Linked DNA regions of Homo sapiens. The protein of the gene in region 7 purifies or fractionates together with the protein of the main gene of each other region. This does not show direct contact. Each region holds a gene or a part of one and is shown on either strand. Other genes may lie near its edges. The genes, in order: LYRM4, ECI2, OPA3, COQ8A, TAMM41, ADCK2 and ALDH1L1.

Region 1 (3,500 bases), on a different chromosome or scaffold from region 7:
CTGACGTTCTAATTACTCTTGCGGATGTTATCAGACCACGCAGGAGATCATGCCGCTGCACATGCTCCACCCACCTCATGAGAATGAGAAAAGGAAGCACAAGTCAAGGTGATCCTTGGCACTTCCACAAAACGAAAACTAACACACCCTCCAGGTTCCTTTATGGGGTCAGCACCCAAGCAGCTGTACTTTACACCATCTGCACCTGCAGATGCACCTCCCATGTGGCAACGTAATTCAGGTTCACCACCCACAATGGTGTCTTCAAGAAAAGGGCCACGTTCTGTTTATCCTGAATTATGATTAAAAATACTAGGAAAGGGAGAATATATTTATACTCTGAAATATATCCAAGTACACATGTGCGATACATCTTACAAAAACTTAGCTTTCAAAAAAATTAATGCAGAAGTTTCTCATACTTAAAAGTATCAGCTTTCCAGAAGGATACACTCCCTGGAAATTCCGGAAAGCTGGTATTTTAAGTTCAACTTGAATCTGAAAATATGAGAGTTCACCTTTACATGTCTGTATTAGTACAAGGAACAGAGTTTCATGATCCTGCTCTGTAAATCACCAACACCAAAAGCACGGCTGTCTAATCAAGGGGAATATGTCGAAGTTTAAAGCTCTTAATGAAAAACAGTACATCATTGAACCATCTTACCTGTCGACGAATTACTCCAAGGTCTCTCTTGGCTTTATTCACTAGGGTTTGAATTTCTACAGGATCCTTTACATTTTTATTTTCTCTGAAGGCATCTCTTATCCTCCTGACAGCATATGTTCTAAATGAATTCAGAGGAAAAAAAAGAAAAGGTGTCAGCGTGTCTGAGGCTATGCTTTCAAATGAATTTTAAAGTTTTTCCTTTAGAATTAACTGTTTAATCTTCCCCTACGGATAATCCACTTTGATCTTTGCTCGTGGCGCAGGCTGATCCACTACCATTCTGGGATGACTAAGCAAACAGATTTAGGAAAATAAATCTACTCAACAAGTCACATACAAATGGCAAACTGCTACTGAAGTGTTCCTTAGATTATTGGTTCTTTAGCCTTATTCACATCTGGCTTCATTCCATTTACATGGATAATTGAACCTTTAGTGTACAGAGACAAATCAAGAACTCAGAGGTTAGCGGCAGTGAACCATGATGGTGCTACTGCACTTCAGCCTGGGCGACAATGCGAGACCCTGTCTTAAAAGAAAGGAAGAAAAAATTCAGAGGTTACATGACGATCGTATTTGCATGTACCCAGATAGTGACCTATGCTTTCCAGTCCTTGTCCCATATTCTGGCTCTCACTTCCCTTTCTGTTGTCCACATTAGGATCCCACCACAGTTGAACCTGTGGAATTAGGCCAACACGCTTTCTTTACCTCCATCTTGAAAGTGCACACGCCTACCACCCACCCCCAACCAGACAGCTCACTTGCAGTACAGGACAGCAGTTCCAGAGCAAGGCTTGCCCATCGGACAGGCTTGGGTTTGTAGCCTTGCTCCAGCTTCTACTGTTTGTGTGAACTTGGGCAAGCTTCTTAACACAAGGCCGTGTCTCCTCATCTGTCAAAAAGGCATAATACTGCTAAAGGCTGCTGGGAGGACTAGGCTTTATAATGTGTGTCTGGAATTTGGCCCAAAGCCTGTTACATAGAAAGACTCAATAAATGAAAGCTATTCTTCTTAACACTTGTTATGCCTTAATGCAATTACTGTTCCCTCTCCTCATGCCATAACCTTGCCTTCATCCTGCATCCTTACAGTCACACCATAGTGTGTGTACAGAAGGTAGAGTGGTGTGGATAATTAGCCACAACAGACAGCTCAGCAGTCCTTAGACACAGCCTCATACTCAGATGGCTATGGCCTATCTCTAGCTCTACCCCAACTACTCCAGATTGAAAGGCATAAGACTAAGGAGAAGCAGACTGAGCCAGGCATGTGAGACACCATTTTCTCTATGTTTTTTTTTTCTTTTTTAGAGATGGGGTGTCCCTCTGTTGCCCAGGCAGTGTCATGATCATAGCTCACTGCAATTGCAAACTCCTGGGCTCAAGTGATCCTCCTGCCTCAGCCTCCAAAGTGGCCAGGATTATAAGCACCCACCACCACGCCTGGCTAATTAAAAAAAATTTTGGGGGATGGGGACTTGCTGCGTTGCCCAGGCTGGTCTTAAACTCCTGGGCTCAAGCTATCCTCCTGCCTTAGCATCTCAAGGAGCTAGGATTACAAGCACACACCACAGTGCCTGGCTCTCTCGTCTTCTTAATGATCACAGACTGCTCTGCTTTTAACTTGGAGCACCGGTTAAAGAATCCATGTGATGCCAGTAGTAATATTTAGCAACAGAAGAATGGAAATACAGGCAAAGAAATGAGAGGAGGGGATATAAATTTCCTTGGGAGCAGCGCGGAGGGGGTGTTGGGAGCTCATATAACTTATTGGGAAACTTTATCTTAAAAAGGACAAATTGTTTCAGATAAAGTTTTTTAAAGTAAAAAGGCATTTTACATTAAAAAATTCAAATGTCAGGTCTATTTGCATTTAAAAGCAAGAGTAAAACTAAATCTTATGATACTAGGAATCATAAAGGAGAAGGGAAGAGTTTAGGAACCGGTACTTAGAATGTAAGACACTGCTGAGACTTTGATCTTAACCCTCTGTGAACCAGCTGGAGTATTTCAGAGGAGCTGCTGAGCGCTCAGTATCAATCCTAAAGGGCTACAGCGATTGGGCATGGAATCCATGTACTAGCAGCTGCTAAATAACTGGGGCTCATTCACTTCTAAAGGGATATGGGAGGATTTTACAAATGGAATACATCAGATACAGACTCTCCTCAGGTGCAGCTGCTAATCTAACAAGATTTTAGATAGCAGCTAGGTAAATTAACAGCAATTTCTGGCACTTTCTTGCATAGCCTAATGGCTATTTATAAAACACAGCATCACTGTTCTTCTTGACAACCACATACTCCTCCAAAGCAGTTTCTTTTTTGGCAATGATGGCAGCAAAGAGGGGACAAAATAATTTAATTCTAATATTTGTTCCACAGGCAAAATTGGTTTATAACATGAATTTACCTCCAGGAATCATCTATTGTTTAAATTTTTCATTTCGTATGCTGCATGGGCTTCTTGGAAAAACAAAATGGGCAACAGTAGCTATTGCTAAACTCATTTTTCTAAAAGCTAGTAACTAGCTTAGAATAGCTAGGAAAAAAGGAGTACTGTTTGGAATGTAAAGACCTAAGGTCTTCCAAAGTTTAAGGAAATGAGAAAATAGCTTAAAACACTCAACAATTTATATCAACTGAGCTCAAGGCCCAGGGTCAGGATATTCTGCTATGTATACTTGTTTGTCTCCCCAGCTCTCCAAAGTCCTTACCTAAAGAAAAGCAGCTCTAGATCTTGGAATTAAATGTGTCTAAAGCAATCAAGAGTCATGATTCAAATTTTCGATGCACTTTCGAGATGAATGCTGTAATGGTTCCCTCCT
Region 2 (3,370 bases), on a different chromosome or scaffold from region 7:
GGGATGCCTTTCATAAAGTACCACATTAAACAAGAATGGGACTCTAACAAATAAGAAAACAATTACTCATACAGAGCATTGCTTTCCAATGAAATGACCCAGTTTTCCCTTCATGCCTCTTTATTAAATTGTGCAAAAAAACCCAACTAAGATTCTTATTTGGGTTCTTATTCTTATTCTTGATTCTTATTTGTTTTCTAGTAATACTATTCCTTCCATTTTGCTCCCTTGCTACATGGCTGAAAAAGAACATGCAACCCACTGAAGACCTCAAGTCAGTGATCTGTAGGCTGTCAGCATTTGGCCCAATTCAGTCAGCCACTGTTTGTGGACGTCAAAGTGCTATAGTGGCATTCAAAGACATGACTTCAGCCTGTAATGCTGTGAGTGCTTTTCAAAGTAGGACCCCAGGCACCATGTTCCAGTGTTCCTGGCAACAACGATTCATGTCAAAAGACGTAAGACTCTCTACTACCAAACACCTGTGTGAATTCTTAAGCTTGTTTTACAAAACTTTTTATTCATCAGAGCTGTAGTGAAATATCATCATTGTAATTGATATTCTAGCACTACAAAAGGCACAATGAAGCTTATTTAGTTCCAGTACTGGAAATCAGAGGTAACAGCACATCCTTCCTTGGACATGCTTTACTCTGCTGTAGTGGTCATCACAGTTTTGATTTTCTGGATAAGAAGTTCACCACAGCATTTGTGCATTCATCTGATAGCCATCTTCCCTGAAGGACATTGCATTCTTCAGCATTAACAGCGTGTAGTTTTTCTCTCTCTCTTTTCCTGATTACCTCTTTTGAAATTCTCAAGGCCTGGAAAAACAAAACCAACAATAAGGTTAAGAGTTGACCTAGGCTGGACGTGGACTCATGCCTGTAATCCCAGCACTTGGGGAGGCCGAGGCGGGCAGATCAGTTGAGGTCAGGAGTTCAAGACCAGCCTGGCCAACATGGTGAAACCCCATCTCTACTAAAAATACAAAAATTAGCTGGTTGTGGTGGTACATGCCTGTGATCCCAGCTACTCAGGAGGCTGAGTCAAGAGAATTGCTTGAACCCGGGAGGCGGAGGTTGCAGTGAGCTGAGATCGCACCATTGCACTCCAGCCTGGGTGACAAGTGAGACTCTGTCTCAAAAAGAAAAAAAGAGTTAATCTAATAGGAGTGAGATTATTCTATGATTCTGGTTCTTGTTTCTCCCATGTTCATTTAATAAATCCTGTTAAATCTTTTTTTTTTTTCTGAGACATAGTCTCACTCTGTCGCCCAGGCTGGAGTGCAGTGGTGCAATCTTGGCTCATTGCAACCTCTGCCTCCCGGGTTCAAGCAATTCTCCCTGCCTCAGCATCCAGAGTAGCTGGGATTACAGGCGCCCACCACCACGCCTGGCTAATTTTTGTATTTTTTAAATAGAGATGTGGTTTTGCCATGTTGGCCAGGCTGTTCTTGAACTCCTGACCTCAGGTGATCTGCCCTTCTTGGCCTCCCAAAGTACTGAGACTACAGGTGTGAGCCACTGTTCTCGGCCCTAATGCTGTTAAATCTTAAGCTGCATGTGTAATATAAGACAGTGCTTCTCAAAATTCAGTGTGCATATAAATCGCTTCAGTAGGTGTGGGGCAGGCCTGTGATAATACATTTCCAAAAAGCCTCAGGTAGCTGCTCAAGCTTCTGGCTCCAGGACTACATTTTGAATAGCAAGAATATAAAAGCAATCAGTCACTCACTACCACATACAAAAACAAAAGTGCTATACAATAAGACTCTCAAAGTAGCTAATCCATGCTTCTCACCTGGATTCCAAAGTAAAAGTGCTCAGCAAATACTGCCTAGCATCCTGCTCAAGTAATCCCCATACAGAATTGCCCTCTGTCCCCACACAGAAATGGAAGGTCTATTTGATAAGTTTTGTAAAAATCAGTACTGCATTTCCAACATTACTACAGTTATTTTTTAATTCCAAATTTAGATGTGCTTAGAGGTAACTAAAGATGTGTCTTGTGCTTTTTATGACTTATTCTCTGAAGGCAAATAAATTTTTCCCTTAGGAAATCATTTTCAAGGTTCTTAGAAGTAAAAGATGAATACTAACATTTGGGGGAAGCTTTGCAAATGCCTTCAGCCTGGTCCAGACTTCTTTCTGAAAAGTGCTATCAGGGAAAACTTCAGTAACAAGTCCTTGAGCACATGCCTCTCCCGCTGTTAACTTCTTTCCAAAAATAAGCATCTCTGTTGCCTGAAATGAAAAGCAAGAAGCAAGGTTAAGATACTAACTTAATAAAACAAGGCTTCAGTTAACTGCTTTCAGGAGGCTTAGAGAGATGTACTCATGGTCTTTTGAGGTTGCTGGTATTTCTCAGTAAGGGAGAAGCTGATGACCTCAATAGGCAACGGTTTGCAAACTGTGTGCTGAGACAGGCTCCTGGGAAGGTCTATAAGGGCTGCTGCTTCTGTGTATCGTTGTTGGAGGGGCAAGATCAGGGGGTCCAGGGCAGAAATGATCTGAAGCAGATGCTTGATTCTATAACCCACAGCAGCTATGATTTTCCATTTGATACACTATAAACTATTATTTTACAGAGGAAAAAAGGAGAGAAAAATTACGGTCATTGGGTCAACCTTTAGAAACTTTCAAAATTCCATTCTCTGGAAACTACCCAGTGATCTGGCTCTGAGAGTTTTCTTTACCTGCATTGGTACTCAAATTAGTTCTATTTGACTAAAGGAAAGCAAAGACTTATAGTTAGCTTCCGAAAAAACTGAGGACATTAAGTGGATATCCTCTCTCCATTTGCAATTTCTTTTCCAGAAAAGGAATGCTCTTCTTTTTTTTGAGACAGAGTCTCACTGTGCTGCCCAGGCTGGAGTGCAGAGGCACGATCTTGGCTCACTGTAACCTCCACCTCCTGGGTTCAAATGATTCTCCTGCCTCAGCCTCTTGAGTAGCTGGGATTACAGGTGCCCGCCACCATGCCCCGGCTAATTTTTGTATTTTTAGTAGAGACAGCATTTCACTATGTTGGCCCGGCTGGTCTTGAACTCCTGATCTCAAGTGATCCACCAGCCTTGGCCTCCCAAAGTGCTGGGATTACAGGTGTGAGCCACTGCACCCAGCCAAGGAATGCTCTAATAGCCAAATGCTCTAAGACTTGTAGAGTCAGTTCTGCCCCCTTCCCAAGTTCAATTCAGGGTATGTGATAGCCTAATGAGAGTAAAAACATACATATATAAGTTTTTAACAAAATCCTAATAGGCAATGAAAACAAGCTCAATTCCCACTGCCCCACTTTGAGATCTTGCAGCAATATTTGCTAAGCCTTTTCCTATAGCTCAGCTTCTGGTCTTGTCACAATCCCCTTC
Region 3 (3,984 bases), on a different chromosome or scaffold from region 7:
TGGTCAGGCTGGTCTCGAACTCCTGACCTCATGATCCACCCACCTCGGCCTCCCAAAGTGCTGGAATTACAGACGTGAGCCACCGCGCCCCAGCCAGGAGTCTTACCATTACTCAAATCAGTCTCCCTGAGCATTCAGGGAGATTTTATTTTTATTTTATTTTATTTTTTTTTTTTGAGATGGATTTTCACTCTTTCGCCTGGGCTGGAATGAAGTGACGCGATCTTGGCTCACTGCAACCTCCATCCCCGGGTTCAAGCGATTCTCATGCTCCAGCCTCCCGAGTAGCTGGGATTATAGGCGCCCGCCACCAAGCCCGCCTAACTTTTGTATTTTTAGTAGAGACGGGGTTTGACCATGCTGGCCAGGCTGGTTGCAAACTCCTGACCTCAGGTGCTCCACCCCCCTCAGCCTTCCAAAGTGCTAGGATTACAGATGCGAGCCAATGGGCCCAGCTGGAGCAGAGTTTTTTTGTTTTTTGTTTTTGTTTTGAGACGGAGTCTCGGTCTGTCGCCCAGGCTGGAGTGTAGTGGTGCGATCTCGGTGGAGCAGAGTTTTTAAGGATAACTTGATGGGTGAGGGGAAGCCAGTGAGCCAGGAGTGCTGATTGGTCAGAGATGAAATCACAGGGAGTCGGAGCTGTCTTCTTGCGCTCAGTCAGTTCCTGGGTTGGGGGGCCACAAGATCAGATGGGCCAGTTTATTGATCTGGGTAAGGCCAGCTGATCCATCAAGTGCAGGGTCTGTGAAATATCTCAAGCACTGATCTTAGGAGCAGTTTAGGGAGGGTCAGAATCTTGTACCCTCCAGCTGCATGACTCCTAAACCATAATTTCTAATCTTGTGGCTAATGTTAGTCCTACAAAGGCAATCCAGTCGCCAGACAAGAAGGAGGTCTGCTTTGGGAAAGGGCTGTTACCATGTTTGTTTAAACTATAAACTACAAACTAAATCTCTCCCAAAGTTAGTTCAGCCTTTGCCCAGGAATGAACAAGGATAGCTTGGAGGTTAGAAGCAAGATGGAGTAAGTTAACTTAGATCTCTTTCGCTGTGTCAGTCATAATTTTGCAAAGGCGGTTTCAGTGGTTCTCTGACCCAGCCAATGATGCTAAATTCCCTTATTTTATGTCCCACGTAGCACAACACAGATCACCTTTTTTTTTTTTGGAGACGGAGTCTTGCTCCGTCACCCAGGCTGGAGTACAGTGTTACGATCTCGGCTCACTGCAAGCTCCGCCTTCCGGGTTCACGCCATTCTCCTGCCTCAGCCTCCTGAGTAGCTGGGACCACAGGCGCCCAGCCACCACGCCCGGCTAATTTTTTTGTATTTTTAGTAGAGATGGGGTTTCACCGTGTTAGCCAGGATGGTCTCCATCTTCTGACCTCGTGATCTGCCCACCTCGGCCTCCCAAAGTGCTGGGATTACAGGCGTGAGCCACCGCGCCCGGCAAGATCACCTTTTTAAAGTAGTTTATATTTTGGGTGTTTACTAAGCCCTTTATTTCTATTTATTATTTTTTGAGACAGTCTTGCTGTGTCGCCCAGGCTGGAGTGCAATGGCACAATCTAGGCTCACTGCAGCCTCCACCTACCAGGTTCAAGCGATTCCCCTGCCTCAGCCTCCCAAGTAGCTGGGATTACAGGTGTGCGCCACCACACCCAGCTAATTTTTGTATTTTTAGTACAGACCGGGTTTCACTATGTTGGCCAGGCTGGTCTCGAACTCCTGGCCTCATGTGATCCGCCCGCCTCGGCCTCCCAAAGTGCTGGTATTACAGGTGTGAGCCACCGCGCCGGACCTTACTATGCCCTTTAGATCTGAGCTCGGGCGGCCCCCTCTAGGCAGCCCTGCTGGCCTCAGGTCCCTGGGTCAGCCAGTTCCTCTGAGCTCCGGGGCTCCCACTTTCCCGACCACTCTGGGTTGACAGTGATGGATCAGGAGTATATCTCCCAGTGCTGAGCAAAAAGGCCGCATAGTCTGTCAACCGAATGAAAGGACGGCGTATGAGCGCATTAATGAGTACACAGATGAATGTCCTCTCTGGCTCAAAGTCCTTTTCCGGATTCCCAGGCCATGTCTCCAGAACCCAGACTTCACCCCCGAACCATGCCCCTAATCCAGACTTATTGACTACAGTAAAACTGAGGCACGTCGACGTCCTAAACGGAGGATATACAAGCACCTCCTAGATCAGTGGGGAAACTGAGGCACACGGTGCCGCTTTTGAAATGAAGTTGCCCAAGGACAGCCGGGCAAAGGACCCCGTCCGGTTTCTCCTCAGCCCCTCCCCTAGCTCCTCTATCCTGGAAAGCCCCGTCCAAATTTCTCCCATCTCTCACACTATTGGTTTAACAGGGCATCAGTCTCCAAGCGCTCTCTTCCTTTATCGGCTGGCATTTCCTACTCGCGTGGTGGCTCCTTGACCCGCCCCTTACGCCCCGCCCCGCCCTCACTACTGGGCCACCCGTACGCCCCTCTATCAGAAACCCCCCACTATTGGCCACTGGACTTTGCCGGTTCGGGCTGTGATTGGTCGTAGACAGAAGTCCATCCCCTAAGCAACCACCTGACAGGGGTTGGAGAAAGGAAAAAGGTTGGAGGGAATTCGGGTCAGACTCACGTTGAGCCGGCGGGAGGCAGATATAGGTCTTGAAGAACTCGCTTCGGCGGGCGGCCTCCTTAATACGGTTGGCAAGCGGCTTGCTGACCTGCCGGATGCCCAAGTATAGCAGCTTCGCCATAGGGAACGCGCCCACCACCATCTTGGCGGTCTCACAGGGCACGCGCAACCTTGCTGACTGGGCGGGGCGCCTCAACCTCTTCACTCCTCCCCCGCCCTCTCGTGGCCATGCGTGCGTCAGTACGTATGTACGTACGCTCGAGGGAAACTTCAGAGGCGCATCCTGACGTCACCCCGTCGACGCTGGCGTAGCGACGTCCGTTCGCTGAATATGCAAATATACACGGAAGTGAGGCGGGTCAGGGGGCGGTGCCGTTAAACGGATGCTGGAAGGCGTGTGGATTCCCACGCCCGCCTTGGCCAACGTCACTGTACTCCTTCGTGATGTCACGTTCCGAGTTGGCGTCCCCACCCAAAGGAGGCTCTTAATTAGTCCTAATTAGTCCTATGAGCCCCAAATACACCTTCCTCTGCAAGCTAGGGCTCTCATTGGGATTAAGAGGAAGCCGCGCGGTCATACAGACTTTGGCTGGGATCCCAGCTCTGCCATTTCCTCGCTGTGTAATATTAGATGAGTGGCATAACCTCTCTGGACTTCAGTATTACCGTCTACCAAATGGGAATCCTAATAGCAGTTGCCTCTTTGGGTTGTTGTGAGGCTTCTATGCTAATCTTGAGTGTAAAACAGTGGACCATGGGAAGTGGTTAGAATGGTGCCATTCATATAGTTAAGCGCTCAGTAAATAGCCCTTCTTACTATACAGGTCATGATTGCATTATTAATGCTAAATCCAGCCTGAGGGTGCATTTCACCCCCAGAAGCAGCGAATCCAACCCTTTCCCAAGTAACTGACAAGGAAACTGAGGCCCAGAGCAGGGCAGGGGGTGGCACAAGGTTCCTGCAGAGGTTGATAGCCTGGCATCTTGGCCAATAAAACCATACCCGTTCTCAAGCAACCCAACTTCCTTCATTAGGAGGTAGGTTCCCCAGGGAGCTAGTTCAGAAATAAATTTAAGGACATGTCCCAGACTGTCCTTTCTTACCCAGCAGGGAGTAAAATCATATAAACAATGTCAGGAAGGGGTTGAGAGAAATTCCTGGATGATGGAGTGCTGATGGGTAATTGAGAGATTCTCGGAGGCAGAGGGACAGAAGAAAACAGGAACAGAGGACTGGCCGCCATGGCTCACGCCTGTAATCCCAGCACTTTGGGAGGCTGAGGAGGGTGGATCACCTGAGGTCAGGAGTTTGAGACCAACCTGGCTAACATCGTGAAATCCCATCTCCACTAAAAAAAAAAAAA
Region 4 (3,500 bases), on a different chromosome or scaffold from region 7:
GCACAGTCTCCCTGTCCCTGTCGGCAGCAGCCCTGATGATCTGGGGAGAGGCACAGGAGGGGACCGTGGGCAGCATGAAAAGCTCAGCTCCCGACATCCCAGGGAGCCAAGTGCCACACCCGAGCCCACCCCACCCTCATCCTCTCCCTGCACAGGGCCCCCGGCCAGTGCTGTGACACCACGCCTGGCAGCTGTCAGCCTAACTGCCTGCTGTCACCAGACCTGAGGGGCAGGCAGCGCAGATGGGGACACAAGGGCAGGAACCCAGTCATTCTCCCTACCCCGAGTCCCCCAGCATCCTGTCCCAGCCTCAGAAAAACATGGACCAAGGCCAGGGCCCCTCTCCAGTTACCTGAATGTAGAGGTCGGTGAAGGATCTGTCATATTCCCGCGTTGCCCCAAAATCCAAAAGAGCCACCTGGGGACAGAGACACCAGGAGAAGTTTGGCCCTGGTGCTCCATGGTGCGGGTGTGTGGGGCCGGGAAGGGGGTGCAACAGAGGGCAGTGAGGATCCCCACTCCCAGAGCCCTGAGCTCTCTGCTGACTTTCCCAGGACAAGGGGCAGTCCAGGGCCTCACGTGCCCCATTCGGAGAAGCTCTCAGGCCTGGCTGCGGGTGCCCCCACCCTGGGGCTCACCTTGTGCTGCTGGGGGTCATAGAAGAAGTTGGACCAGTTGGGGTCTGTTTGCATGAAGTGGAACTCGAACAGCTCCCTCAGGCACAGAACCAGGATGTTGTAGCAGATCTGTGGACAGCGCGAAGGGTCTGTGTCAGGCAGCACCACACTGCCTGGTGCCCTGGGAGACTGGGGCCAGAGAAGCCCCTGCCTCCTGTTTTACCCACCCTACCCTAGGGACTGTTTGATTCCCAGTGTTACTTGGGCCAGGGAAGGCAGCAGCTCCCCTGTGTCCCCCTAAGTCCCACTGGTGCTACTTCACTGCCCCTCACCCCCAGGGAGCACCTCAGGGCTCCAAGTCCCCAGCTCACACTATTAGGTCACCAAACAGCCACACAGCAGGGCCACCCTGGCCCCACCTGTCTGCTGGCACAGACAAACCTCGTTCCGAATCTCCTGGCTGAGCCCTTCGGCCTGGTCCAGGGGGAAGCCAGACACCAGCTCTGTGGTCAGCACATGTGGGCTGCAGAGCTCATCCACAATCTCAGGCACATAGAAGAAGGGGTGGCCCTTCAGCAGGTCCCTGGGTAGGGGAGGGAGGTCACGCCCTAGCCACAGGCCCTCCACACCGTCCCCCCCCCCACACACACCCCCCAACCAGGCAGAGGGCCCTCCTTCACCCCAGGCAGGATATGGCCTCGGCCCAGGCTGCAACCCCAGCCCTCTGCCCCTCAGAGCTGGAGGGGCCTTCACCAGCTGCTGAACATGGTCCCTTCTGCCTCCCTGGTGCAAACACGCAAGGGGCCCGGCCGGGGGCCACACCTGAACTTGCGGGCACAGGCGGCCTCTCGCTGGTAGTCACACTCCAGGGCCAGCTCCCGCCTCAGCACGTCGATCAGGTGCTCGGGGAACAGGCCTGGGCCAGGGAGGAGGGCATCAGCGAGGAAGGGGGCTCTGCAGGGAGGACCCCCTCTGGTCCCCAGAACCCAACACAGATGCCTGCCACCCACTCCTGCCCTTGACCCAACCACCTAGCCTCAGACCTTCTGGAAGCATGTTGCTCATGTTCAACACGGCCATGAGGTTGTTGACATCACTGTTGATGCTCTGGGCCACGCCAGGGTACTGTGGGGGTATGGGTGAGGCAGGGGAGTTAGCCCAGGGAGACGGGTGGGCCCTGCCTGGGGCACTCCCCCAACCCCCAACTGGCTTCCCAGCTGTGTCCTGGCCCCAGCCCACACCCTGGAGAACCAGAGCTAAGACCCAGCCATGCTGCCGTGACCTGGACCCCATCACAGCCTCGTTGTCCACCTACTCCTGCCTCACCTCACCCCTGGGAACAGCTCACGGCCACCCTCCCACCAGCTCTGGCCCCAAAAAGCAATCACTTGTCCCCTGTCCTTGCCCACCCCAAATCAAGCTTGCTGGGGGCCCCTCTGTGCCCCCAAAGTCACTCATTTAGCAAATACTTCCCAAGCTTCTGGTGCCGTCCAGGCACTGGGGCCAGAAGACACCACATATGGCCCTGCCAGGAGAGAGGGTGCCCTGCGGGACGTGGGGTGTAGAGGCCTCCATGAGCCAGGCCCCAGCTCTGCCCCTTGCAGCCCCCATAGGGACAGGCACTGCGCATCAGGCCGCCTACCTGGATCTTCATGGCCACCTCGCGGCCGCCCTTCATTCGGGCCAAGTGCACCTGCCCAATGGATGCGGCGGCGAAGGGCCGCTCCTCGAAGTATTCCAACTTGTCCCGCCAGTTGGGGCCCAGGTCGTTGTTGAGAGTTTTCTGAAGGGCAGGGCCAGGGAGGGGCTCTGAGCATGCCCTGCCTGGGCCACCGGGAGAAGCCCCAAGTCTGTCCCCTCCACCCAGTGGGGGCCGAGGCCACAGAGAGTGGGCAGAGCCCCTGGCTCCTCACCATCATCTGCTTCAGTGGCATGAAGTCCGCGCTCTGCCGCACCCGCTCGAAGATCTTAGCCAGGTGGGGGTTGATAAAGGCATCATCTGGAAGGCAGGAGAATGACACAGGGCGAACCTGGGGATTAAAGTGTGCGCCCAGGACCTGGGCGGGCACACTCCTGGGATGCCCTGGCCACCACACCCTCCCCACCAGGAGCACGGGTGAGGCCAGAAAGACAGGAGCCCTCGCACACACGCCCTCGGCCACTCAGCTTCCCGGGAGCCCCAGCCTCCGCCCAGTGACCTGAGAAGGTGGGCTTTTTACACTCAACATGCAGAGTTTTTCATAATTACAAAAGAAATTTGGAAAATAAAACATAGTAAAATGTTGAAATGACCTGTGTTCTGACCACCTGTAGAGAGCAATTTTTCCTCTCTGCTCTTTATTCCATGTGTTTCTTTGGACCCAGAGCCACCCGTCTGGAGACCAGGCCTATTATCTTCTAAGATCTCTCCCCAGCCTGCTCACATCTTGCCCACTGAGCTTTGGTGGGGCCACTGCTCCCGGCCCTGGAAGTTGACCCCCCCAGCAGCCCACGCAGTCCCGGGGCAGCAGCCCCCGCGCCCACTCACCCTGGATGCTCAGCATCTGGCCCAGCTTGAGTGCCGCACCACGCACCTTGCAGAGCGTGCGCACGATCCGCTCTGCATTGGCCTCGGACAGGAAAGGACTGGAACCCAGCACGGCCTTCTTCCCTGTGGGCGGGCAAGAGGGGTCACCACGGCACTCGGGGGGGTCTGGGAGTGGGATGGCAAGCCCCACCTGATACAGACGGAGGCTCAGACAATGTCCTTCCTCCCAGGCGTCCATAAAACCAGCAACATAACTAACTACTGTTCCATGTCCACCTCCCCAAGCCTGTGTGAGCCACATGCCCAGGCCCTACGCCAGCGCCTCCCAATACACACAGGCATGCACACGTACATAT
Region 5 (2,472 bases), about 110 Mb from region 7:
GGGGTTCTCTAACAAGGGGTCCACAGATTAAGTCTGAGTGTCTGTGAACTCCCTAACACTGCAGGAAAATCTACTGTGTGTGTGCGTAGGTGCACTTCTGTGCAGGGCGTCCAGAGTTCTAGTCAGATTTTCACAGGGATCCTGGACTTGCAAAAGGCTAAGAACCAACAGATCAGAATGAAGAGTCTTTTCTGCCTTAATATTATAATTTCAACAGAGGTGGAGAACTTAAATTTCATGATTTTGGAATAGGCAAAAATTTTCTAAACAGGACACAAAAAACTGCTAAACATATAGAAAACAAAATGGATAAACTGGACTACATGAAATTATGAACTTCTTTTCACCAAAAGACACCATTAAGAGAGTGAAATGACATGGCTTACAGCCATAATCCCAACACTTAGGGAGGCCGAGGCGGGCAGACCATGAGGTCAGGAGATCAAGACCAACCTGGCCAACATGGTGAAACCCCGTCTCTACTAAAAATACAAAAAATTAGCCAGGCGTGGTGGCATGTGCCTGTAGTCCCAGCTACTTAGGAGGCTGGGACAGGGGAATCGCTTGAGCCCGGGAAGCGGAGGTTGCAATGAGCCGAGATCACGCCACTGCACTCCAGCCTGGCCACAGAGCAAGGCCCCATCTCAAAAAAAAAAAAAAAAAAAAAAAAAGAGAGTGAAATGACAAGCCACGGAGTGGGGGATTTTGACATCACATGTATCCAACAATGGAGTTGTGCCCCGACTACAGAGAGAATTCAGTAAGCAAAAGAGACAACTCAGTAGGAAAATGAGCAGAAGACTAGAATAGACGCTTCACAAAAGAGCATATCCAAATAAACAAATGAAAAATGCTCAACTTCCTCAGTCATGAGGAAAATGTAAATTAAAAGATCAATATGGTACCACTAGTCACCCACTAGAGTGCCTAAAATGAAAAAGACCTAAACAGGCATTCAGGGAGGTGCTGCAACAGAAGCTCTGCTAGTGCAAGTATAAATGTGGACGATTGTTTAGCAGTTTCTACTAAAGCTGAACAGTCACATGCTTTATCATCCAGGTATTCTACCCCTCAGTACATACCTGACAGGAATGCATACACCCACCCACCAAAAGACAGGTACAAAAATATTCACAGCAGCACTACTTCTAATAGTCCCAAGCGGGAACAACCCAAGTATCCATCAATAGTAGAATGGATACATTGCGGTATATTCACACAGCAGAATACTGCACTGGGCAGAAATGAACCACTGCTACTCCCAACACGATGAATCTCCCTATGTTATAAATGAACAGGGAAAGGCACAAAAGAGGACATGCTTATACATGGTTAAAAAATGGGTAAAACAGAACCGTGGCACTGGGAGTCAGGCTGGAGCTTACTCTCGGAGAAGCAATGCCTGTGACGGGCATGAGGGGTACTGGGGACTGGAATGACTGTATTTCTTTACCTGGGCACTAGGTCTATGAGGTGTTCCCTTTGTGGAAATTCATCAGATTTATGATTTTTGCACTTTTCTATCTATATGGAGATATTTCCTACTACCAGAAAATTTAGAATCTTTCATTTATTTGGTCACACATAGAACAAATATTTATTGAGCACCTGTATAAGCAAGACACTGAACTAGTTGCTAGGGATACTGGTACAGATAACAGCTATGGTCTCTGCCCTCACAGAGTCCACAATCCATAGACTTCTACTTGGTCTACACTAAGCTTACTTTCTTCAATTTTTTTTTTTTTTTTTTTACTCTGTCGCCCAGGTTGGAGTGCAGTGGCATAATCAAAGCTCACTGGAGCCTCGATCTTCTGGGCTCAAGAGATCCTCTCTCCTCATCTTCCTGAGTAGCTGGGGCTACAGGTACATGCCACCACGCCCGGCTAATTTTATTTTATTTTTGTAGAGATGGGGTCTTGCTTTGTTGCCCAGGCTGGTCTTGAACCCTTGGCCTCAAGCCATCCTCCCACCTTAGCCTCCCAAAGTGCTAGGATTACAGGTGTGAGCCTCTGTGCCCAGATTACATTAAGCTTACTCTTTCTACAGGAAAGGATGATGATTTAGGAATTCTGCTCACTCCTTCCCCAGTGGATAAAAATGCAACATCTCTTTAGATGCATTCCCTGTAGAGAGATCCTTATTTACCTAAAGCTAGTCATTATGAATTCTGGTTAGAATCTAAAGTCAGGATTTTGTTTTAGAAGCATGCAGAAAGCTATGTCACTATATGGCTCCTTAGGTTTCTCTTCTGATTTCCAGCTTGTTTCACATGACCTACAGCGAAGTTAATACACACGTAAGACTATGAACTCCCCGTGTGATCTTAAAACAGATGGGCTACTGACAGACAAACTCTCCAGGAAACAATGTGAGGTAGAAATATGGCTAGGCTGTGAAAGATCTCTATCTTTCCATAATCTTACGTTTCAGACCTTTGATAAAATTAGTATCCCCAAAACATCCTTCCAG
Region 6 (3,500 bases), on a different chromosome or scaffold from region 7:
ACTACAACCTCCATCTCCTGGGCTCAGGTGATCCCACCTCAGCCTCCCAGGTAGCTGGGACTAAAGGCATGCTGCCACCAAACGTGGCCAATTTTTGTATTTTTTTTTTTTTTTTTTTGTAGTGACAGGGTTTTGGCATCTTGCTCAGGCTGGTCTCAAACCCCTGGGCTCAAGCAATCTCCCCGCCTCAGCCTCCTGAAGTGCTGGGATTATAGGTGTGAGCCACTGCACCCAGCCAAAACTCTCCTATGTTTTAATCTGGGCACTGGGATGCTTTTTAAAAATTCACTAAGCATCATTTAAGATCTGAGCACTTTATATTTAAATATTATTGGAATTCAATTTTTTAAAGTTAAGGGCAAAAATCTTCAAAATGAACTTATCTGCCCTTGGATTAAAGTCCAAACTCTTTCACAGATTTACTAGACCCTTTGTGGTCAGGCCCCTCTCACCTCCTCAGCCTCCTCTCACCTCCTCAGCCTCAGCAATCACTGCCCCCTCCTTCAAACTCTCTTCCAAGCCATACTAAGTGCTTTCGTCTCTCCAAGAGCACCATGCAGTAGCTCACCCCAGGCCTCAGCAAAGGCTATTCTCTCTAGACAACTCCCTGCCACCTGTCCTTATGTAGTGACACCTAGACCTTCACACTGCAGCTGAGATGGAGCCACTTCCTGAGTGAATCCCTGGGTTAGCACAGTCTCCTCCGAAATGACCTTTTGGTACCCCGTACCTATCCCTATAAATCATTTACTTAGTCGTCACCTATCTTCCCAAGGAATAGTATGTCACGAGCATTGTAATTGTGTCTGTTTTGCTCACTGCTGTAACCCCAGCCCTTAATTCAGTGCCTGGCACCTAGCAGGTGCTCAATAAACATTTGCTGAACAAATGAGCAAAGCAGCATTTAAAATAAGATATTGTCTCAGCTGTTTGCTAAACTACAGGCAATGCTGGCAGAACTGGGTCATGGTCACCCTTCTTCTCACAGCACACAGAGCATGAGCCACTGACAAAGCACTTAAGAGGCCGGGCATGGTGGTTCATGCCTGTAATCCCAACACTTTGGGAGGCCAAGGTGGGAGGATCGCTTGATCCCAGGAGTTCAAGACTGCCCTGGACAACATAGTAAGTCCCTACAAAACAATTTTTTAAATTAGCCAGGCTTGGTGGCTCATGTTTGTAGTCCCAGCTACTCAGGAGGCTGAGGAGTGAGGAGGCAGGATCACTTGAGCCCAAGAGGTTGAGGCTGTAGTTCATGGAGATTTTGCCACTGCACTCCAACCTCGGCAACAGAGTGAGACCCTATCTTAAAAAAGGAAAAAAAAGGCCGGGTGTGGTGGTTCACACCTGTAATCCCAGCACTTTGGGAGGCCAAGGCGGGTGGATCATGAGGTCAGGAGATCGACACCATCCTGGCTAACATGATGAAACCCCATCTCTACTTAAAAAAATACAAAAAATTAGCCAGGCGTGGTGGCGGGCGCCTGTAGTCCCAGCTACTTGGGAGGCTGAGGCAGGAGAATGGCGTGAACCCAGGAGGCAGAGCTTGCAGTGAGCCGAGATCACGCCACCGCACTCCAGCCTGGGCGACAGAGCAAGACTCCATCTCAAAAAAAAAAAAATAAAAGAGCTTCACAGACACCATGGCCATTTATGGTAGCCTCCACTCTTTCTAGACCAGACTTTCTCAACCTGGCGGCTTGCTGCTTCGCTCTCCTTCCCACCCAGATAGCCAGAGTCCCAGCCCACTCCCCATCTGCAAGCTGACCACATGCTGGGCCTGAGCCCGCTCCAGCCATGAGCTCACCATCTTCAGGAGCATGTTGATCCCCAGCCGTGCAATCTTCCTTTTCAAGTCCACGGGAATTCCTGCCTGCTGGTAACTGGACACAGGCACACTCTCCTTCAGAAAGACCAGGGAGAGAACAGCTTAATCCCAGCCAGCCTGTGATGCTGGCTCCTCCTCCCACGTGGCACCACAGCGCTGTCTTCTCACTTATTGGGAAGTAACCCAAAGAGTATTTCCTTTCCTAGAACCCATCTGTCATTCAGCCATGTGCAGTGGCTCACACCTGTAATCCTAGCACCTTGGGAGGATTGCTTGAGCCCAGGGGTTCAAGACCAGCCTGGACAACATGAGGGAGAACCACCTCAACTCGGAAAGTCAAGGCTTCAGTGAGCTGAGATTGCGCCACTGCACTCTAGCCTGAGTGACAGAGACTCTGTCTCAAACAAAACAAAACAAAAATCTGTCATCCACACATTGATTTGAACTTATTTACATTCCCTTCTATAACAGCTATCAGAAGGATGACAAGTCACATAGGTTTATTGAAAAGGAAACCTATCAACTCTGCTACTGAAGATAAGAGATGTGATGTCCTGAAAAGATAGGGGTGGGCACCAGAGAGCTGGTTTCTGGGCAAGAATCAGCCAATAGGGGTCTGGGCAACGTAAGGAGACCCCCATCTCTACAAAAAAAAAAAAAAATTACCCAGGTGTGGTGGCTAACACGTATAATCCTAGCACTTTTGGAAACCAAAGCAGGAGGATCACTTGAACTTGGGAGTTTGAGACCAGCCTGGGCAACAGGGAGAAACCCAGGCTCTACAGAAAAATACAAAAATTAGTCGGACATGGGGATGGTGGCTCGTGCCTATGGTCCCAGCTACTTGGGAGGCTGAGGTGGAATGATCACTTGAGCCCAGGAGGTGGAGGCTGCAGTGAGCCGAGATCATGCCACTGTACCACAGCCTGGGCAACAGAGCAAGACCTTGTCTCAAAAAAAAAAAAATTGTCAAAACAACCCATGGAGATAGATCTTGTTATCCCTAATTAACAAATAAAAGAACCAAAGCCCAGAGAGGTTAAGCAACTTGCTCAAGTTCACACAGCTAGAAACACTGTGTGGTTCATGTCACATTCATGAGATTCCCTGAATCTCATATCACCATCTGTAAAGAGGAGGCTGGGCTGGGTGCAGTGGCTCATGCCTGTAATCCCAGCACTTTGGGAGGCCAAGGCAGGCAGATCACTTGAGGTCAGGAGTTCCAGACCAGCCTGGCCAACACGGCAAAACTCCATCTCTACTAAAAAATACAAAAATTAGCCAGGTGTGGTGGCACACACCTGTAATCGCAGCTACTTGGGAGGCTGAGGCACGAGAATCACTTGAACCTGGAAGGCGGAGGTGGCAGTGAGCTGAGATCATGCCACTGCACTCCAGCCTGGGCAACAGAGTGAGACTCTATCTCAAAAAAAAAAAAAAAAAAAAAAAAAAAAGAGAGAGAAGGCTGAACTAGAGTAGAGGATAGCTAGGGCAAGTGAGATGACACAAGGTTGTTCAGCACTTTCTCTGTGCCCAACTCCTTGTTTTGCATTCAGTGTGTCATTTACTCCTGAGACAATCCTCTAAGGCAGGTCACCAACTAATAAAATGGCAGAGCAGATTTTCAAATCTAGGGGATCGGGCCACACCCAGTGTTCTCAGCTACCTCACT
Region 7 (3,500 bases):
AGAGGTGTTTCTGATAGACCAAAGAGAGGCCCTGAACCCAGGCTCCCTGGGAGGGCTTCTCTCTGATTCTAGGTTGCCTGACACCCACACAGGGCACTCAGCCTGGAGATGGGTGCCTAGCCAGGAAGGGTAGGGAGCCCAGCTTTCCCAGAACAGAGAAGTGGGTAAACTGCCTCGGACACCCTGTGCTCAGGACCAGCCGGGTGGTCAGGGACAAATCAGGGTCAGTGTTCCTTCCTGGGTCTGGTTTTTTCCATTTTCTCCAGAGGAGCCTAGGGTCTTCCTGTGAGGCCTGAGTCCAAGGACAGGAGCATGGGTGGCTTTGAGCAGGCAAGTGACCCACAGCCGTGCCCTTACCATTTTGTCATCATTCCCAAAGAGGATGAGTCCTGCTTTGGTGACCACCCCTGGCCGATGGGCTCCTGGGATGGGCAAAGCGTCTCCCTCGGGCACCAGGCCTGAAGTGTTCAGCGTTGAGTTGAAAAATGTCAGTTTCTGTCAAGGGGAGAAATATCAGAAGATGGTGGGTGAGAAGAAGCCCCCGAAGCCAGTAGCCCAGGCAGGTCTGAGCAGGGCTGGGAGAGGGAGAGGGGCCAGGGGTAGCTGAGACCTGGGAGCCGGCTCAAAGCCCATGTGACCCCTGAGGCCCTTTCTCCTGGGGCACAAACAAGACCTGGAGGAGCCTCAGTGGCCTCAGGGAGCTGATGGCAGGTCTGCCTCAACTCTGCCATAAGACCCTTCTCCTTGGCCCATGGCCTCAGACCTGAGGTGCACAGACTGGGGGAGAATGTGCTCCAGGCATCACGGAATGAGGCTACCTGCCTTCAGGGTGCTGCCAAGGAGTGGTTGCTTTGATCAGAAGATGCATTTGCTAGTACAAAGGGCTCTGCGTTGATGAGGACAGCAGAGAGGCTTCTGGCCACAGTCTGGGCAGTCGGCTGGGGGTCAGGGGTCTGGAGAGTCTGAGACTGTGTGGGGGACAAGACTGCCCTCAAGGTTTGCACAAAGTCCACCACACACAGTCCCGCCACCCCTGATGCCTCACTAGAGCCTGTGACCCCCAAGTCTCCCCATCTTCAGCATCTGGCCTGCCCACGGTCAGCCTGGCCCTGAATGTGCTGCTCCACCCTGCCTGAGGCCAAGTCAGAGTGAGTACTGGGCCTGGGGTCTCCGCAAGCCCAGTGGTGAGACTCAAAATATTTCACCACCAATACAGCTGGGCCCCAGGGGCACTACAAGGGCCTGGAGGCCTCCAGCTACGCAGGACATCTATCCTTTAGCTACTGCAGGCTGGGTAGGTCTCTCACTCCTGGGGAAAGGCTGGGATGTTTAGGGGGCACCCAGTGGGAGTAGGGGCCAGGGCAGTAGCTATTTATTATACCAACCAGTTCAAACATGTGTGACAGTTTAATGGCCAGTGGGATACACCAATGCACGTGGCTGGATTCCAGCCATGCAGGGACACACCTGTTCACAGGCCTCTGTCCAGGCTCCCGGCACCTTGTCGTTCCCGCGGATCCAGTTGTGAATGGCCTCTGCCGGCTGGTCCCAGTTGATCTGTGGGGAGCAAGGTGTGTGTGCTCAGCTGGTCTCTCCTCACTCCCCTCCCACCCTGATGACATCTGGACAGTGGACCAAGCTCTTGTGAGACAGCTGGTAACCCCAGCTTCCTCTTAGACACTTGCAGGAGTCCCTGAGCTGGTGCCCCTAGTTCTGGGTGCTCTCTGACCCTCAGTCTCTCATGGGCTGAGCAGACTTCAGAATGGTTTGGGGAAGATAATGTTCTGTTGCTGTCAAGATGGCCCAGACCCTACACAGAGGCCCCAGCACAATGTACTCAGGCCCGTCCCATAGGGCCCAACCTTTCACTGGCAGGGCCCCTGTGGGTCCCCACACAGCAACCCATACTCCTGAGCTGAGACACAGCCTACAGGCTTCTGAGGCTCCTCCACTGGCTATTGCTCCAGAGACCCGCACTGTCCCTCACACCTTGCCTTGAAGACTGCTCGCACTACGGCTGACGTTTTGCCCCCTAACTCCCACTCTTATCTCCCTGTGGGCTTTGTCTGCCCATTCCTCCTAAAGAGGAACAGGAAAGAACCTGGAATGGACCCTGTTCGCTACCCTCCCAGGTGCCAGGGTCCTCCTCCTCCACGGCTCTCTTCATGCATCCCTGACCTGGGCTGCCCTGTGTTCTGGCCTCAAAGAATTACAACCTGCACCATCTGGGCTGAACCCCAGCCTCCTCAGGCTGCCCTCTACAACCCCAGTCTGCTCACAGGCAGGATGAGGGTGTGGAGGGACCCAGCACTCACCTTGGCTGTCTCCTTCTTCTGAATCCCCTCATAGGTGGCTCCTTCCTCAGGCTGAGGGAGTCTGGGGGCTTTGCCCTCAGCGATCAGCCTCACGGCCTGCACCTGGGGAGATCCAGTGGGTTGCTATCCCCAGCAATAGGACCCTGCCTCCTTCCCAGCCCCAGGGCCCACATTGAGCCTGGACCCTTCCCCAGACTGACCAGACTTGCCTGGTACACAGCAGTCACCCAAGAAACACCTGCCATATGAACAAGGGAGTCAGCGTGAACCTAACTTCTATTGCACAACGGACACAGACCCGTCCTCTCTACCTGGCAAAGGTTTAGATTACATAGATCTTACATCTTCTGATATCTTAGATGATTATATAAACTGTAAAGCCCTGCAGGTATAACACAGACACAAATGTCCATGTTGCTGTCTAAGCCTTCTCTGCCTTTAAAGAGAGTGGGTCCTGAGCCCCGTGGTGGGCTTGAAGGTGGAAGTTTGGAGGTCTGAGATGAAGCAGGAAGTTGTTTCTCTGTGACAGGAAAGAGGAAGGTGGTGGGAAAGGAATCAGAGAGGGAGAAGGAGAGCCAAGGAGTCTGGGCCCACGTGAGCAAGAGCCTGAGGGAAGAGACCGGGAGGTGCCAAGAATGGGAAGTGACCGGGTGTCAGAGCATCTGAGGCAGGGCTGCCCAATGGAGCCCTCTGTGGTGATGGATGAGTTCCAAGTCTGCACGGTCCAACACGGTGGCCAGGGGACTTAGAATGTGGCTGAGACTGAGGAACTGAATTTTTCAGTATAATTCATTTTAATTGATTTAATAGCTGCATGTTACCAGTGGCTGCCTTGTTGGACAGTGCAGCTTCAAGGAGTATTTGAGTTGCTTGCCGTGGGAAGCACAGGTAAGCTCCCTCTCTGTACCACTAAATCTCCAGCAACTCTACTTTGTTCACTATTTTTGTGAGCTGGTCAATCTGTGGGGAAGACAAGTTTAACACAACCGAAAAATAAAAGGCAGTGGCCAGGAGCTGAGGAGGACGAGGGGACAGTGGACACTGCAGCTGCTCTTCCTGCTGCGCCCAAACAGCAAGGGCTCCCCAGGGCCTCCTTCCCTCCTGCTGCATGCCTGGACAGCACCTCTGCCTGTGGCCGTCCCTGCCAGCCTGTCCTCGGGCAGGGGCAAGCAGCCCTCACATATG

Evidence for each region.
Region 1: the proteins of ALDH1L1 (region 7) and LYRM4 purify together in Homo sapiens (co-immunoprecipitation; one large-scale study listed by IntAct). This does not show direct contact.
Region 2: the proteins of ALDH1L1 (region 7) and ECI2 purify together in Homo sapiens (co-immunoprecipitation; one large-scale study listed by IntAct). This does not show direct contact.
Region 3: the proteins of ALDH1L1 (region 7) and OPA3 purify together in Homo sapiens (co-immunoprecipitation; one large-scale study listed by IntAct). This does not show direct contact.
Region 4: the proteins of ALDH1L1 (region 7) and COQ8A purify together in Homo sapiens (co-immunoprecipitation; one large-scale study listed by IntAct). This does not show direct contact.
Region 5: the proteins of ALDH1L1 (region 7) and TAMM41 purify together in Homo sapiens (co-immunoprecipitation; one large-scale study listed by IntAct). This does not show direct contact.
Region 6: the proteins of ALDH1L1 (region 7) and ADCK2 purify together in Homo sapiens (co-immunoprecipitation; one large-scale study listed by IntAct). This does not show direct contact.

What each region holds. Positions count from the first base shown.
Region 1 is NC_000006.12:5,215,951-5,219,450, forward strand, and holds part of LYRM4 (LYR motif-containing protein 4), read right to left. Parts: intron 789-3,500; coding exon 668-788; intron 1-667.
Region 2 is NC_000006.12:4,115,206-4,118,575, forward strand, and holds the end of ECI2 (enoyl-CoA delta isomerase 2), read right to left. Parts: intron 2,247-3,370; coding exon 2,103-2,246; intron 825-2,102; coding exon 669-824; 3' UTR 501-668; downstream 1-500. UniProt on the Homo sapiens protein: Able to isomerize both 3-cis and 3-trans double bonds into the 2-trans form in a range of enoyl-CoA species. Has a preference for 3-trans substrates.
Region 3 is NC_000019.10:45,582,003-45,585,986, forward strand, and holds the start of OPA3 (optic atrophy 3 protein), read right to left. Parts: upstream 2,801-3,984; 5' UTR 2,763-2,800; coding exon 2,621-2,762; intron 1-2,620. UniProt on the Homo sapiens protein: May play some role in mitochondrial processes.
Region 4 is NC_000001.11:226,981,794-226,985,293, reverse strand, and holds part of COQ8A (atypical kinase COQ8A, mitochondrial), read right to left. Parts: intron 3,268-3,500; coding exon 3,145-3,267; intron 2,617-3,144; coding exon 2,531-2,616; intron 2,401-2,530; coding exon 2,260-2,400; intron 1,743-2,259; coding exon 1,661-1,742; intron 1,534-1,660; coding exon 1,440-1,533; intron 1,201-1,439; coding exon 1,059-1,200; intron 747-1,058; coding exon 639-746; intron 419-638; coding exon 353-418; intron 41-352; coding exon 1-40. UniProt on the Homo sapiens protein: Atypical kinase involved in the biosynthesis of coenzyme Q, also named ubiquinone, an essential lipid-soluble electron transporter for aerobic cellular respiration.
Region 5 is NC_000003.12:11,792,414-11,794,885, forward strand, and holds part of TAMM41 (phosphatidate cytidylyltransferase, mitochondrial isoform a precursor), read right to left. Parts: intron 1-2,472. UniProt on the Homo sapiens protein: Catalyzes the conversion of phosphatidic acid (PA) to CDP-diacylglycerol (CDP-DAG), an essential intermediate in the synthesis of phosphatidylglycerol, cardiolipin and phosphatidylinositol.
Region 6 is NC_000007.14:140,679,445-140,682,944, reverse strand, and holds part of ADCK2 (uncharacterized aarF domain-containing protein kinase 2), read right to left. Parts: intron 1,904-3,500; coding exon 1,808-1,903; intron 1-1,807. UniProt on the Homo sapiens protein: The function of this protein is not yet clear. It is not known if it has protein kinase activity and what type of substrate it would phosphorylate (Ser, Thr or Tyr).
Region 7 is NC_000003.12:126,153,087-126,156,586, forward strand, and holds part of ALDH1L1 (cytosolic 10-formyltetrahydrofolate dehydrogenase), read right to left. Parts: intron 2,418-3,500; coding exon 2,316-2,417; intron 1,558-2,315; coding exon 1,468-1,557; intron 496-1,467; coding exon 358-495; intron 1-357. UniProt on the Homo sapiens protein: Cytosolic 10-formyltetrahydrofolate dehydrogenase that catalyzes the NADP(+)-dependent conversion of 10-formyltetrahydrofolate to tetrahydrofolate and carbon dioxide.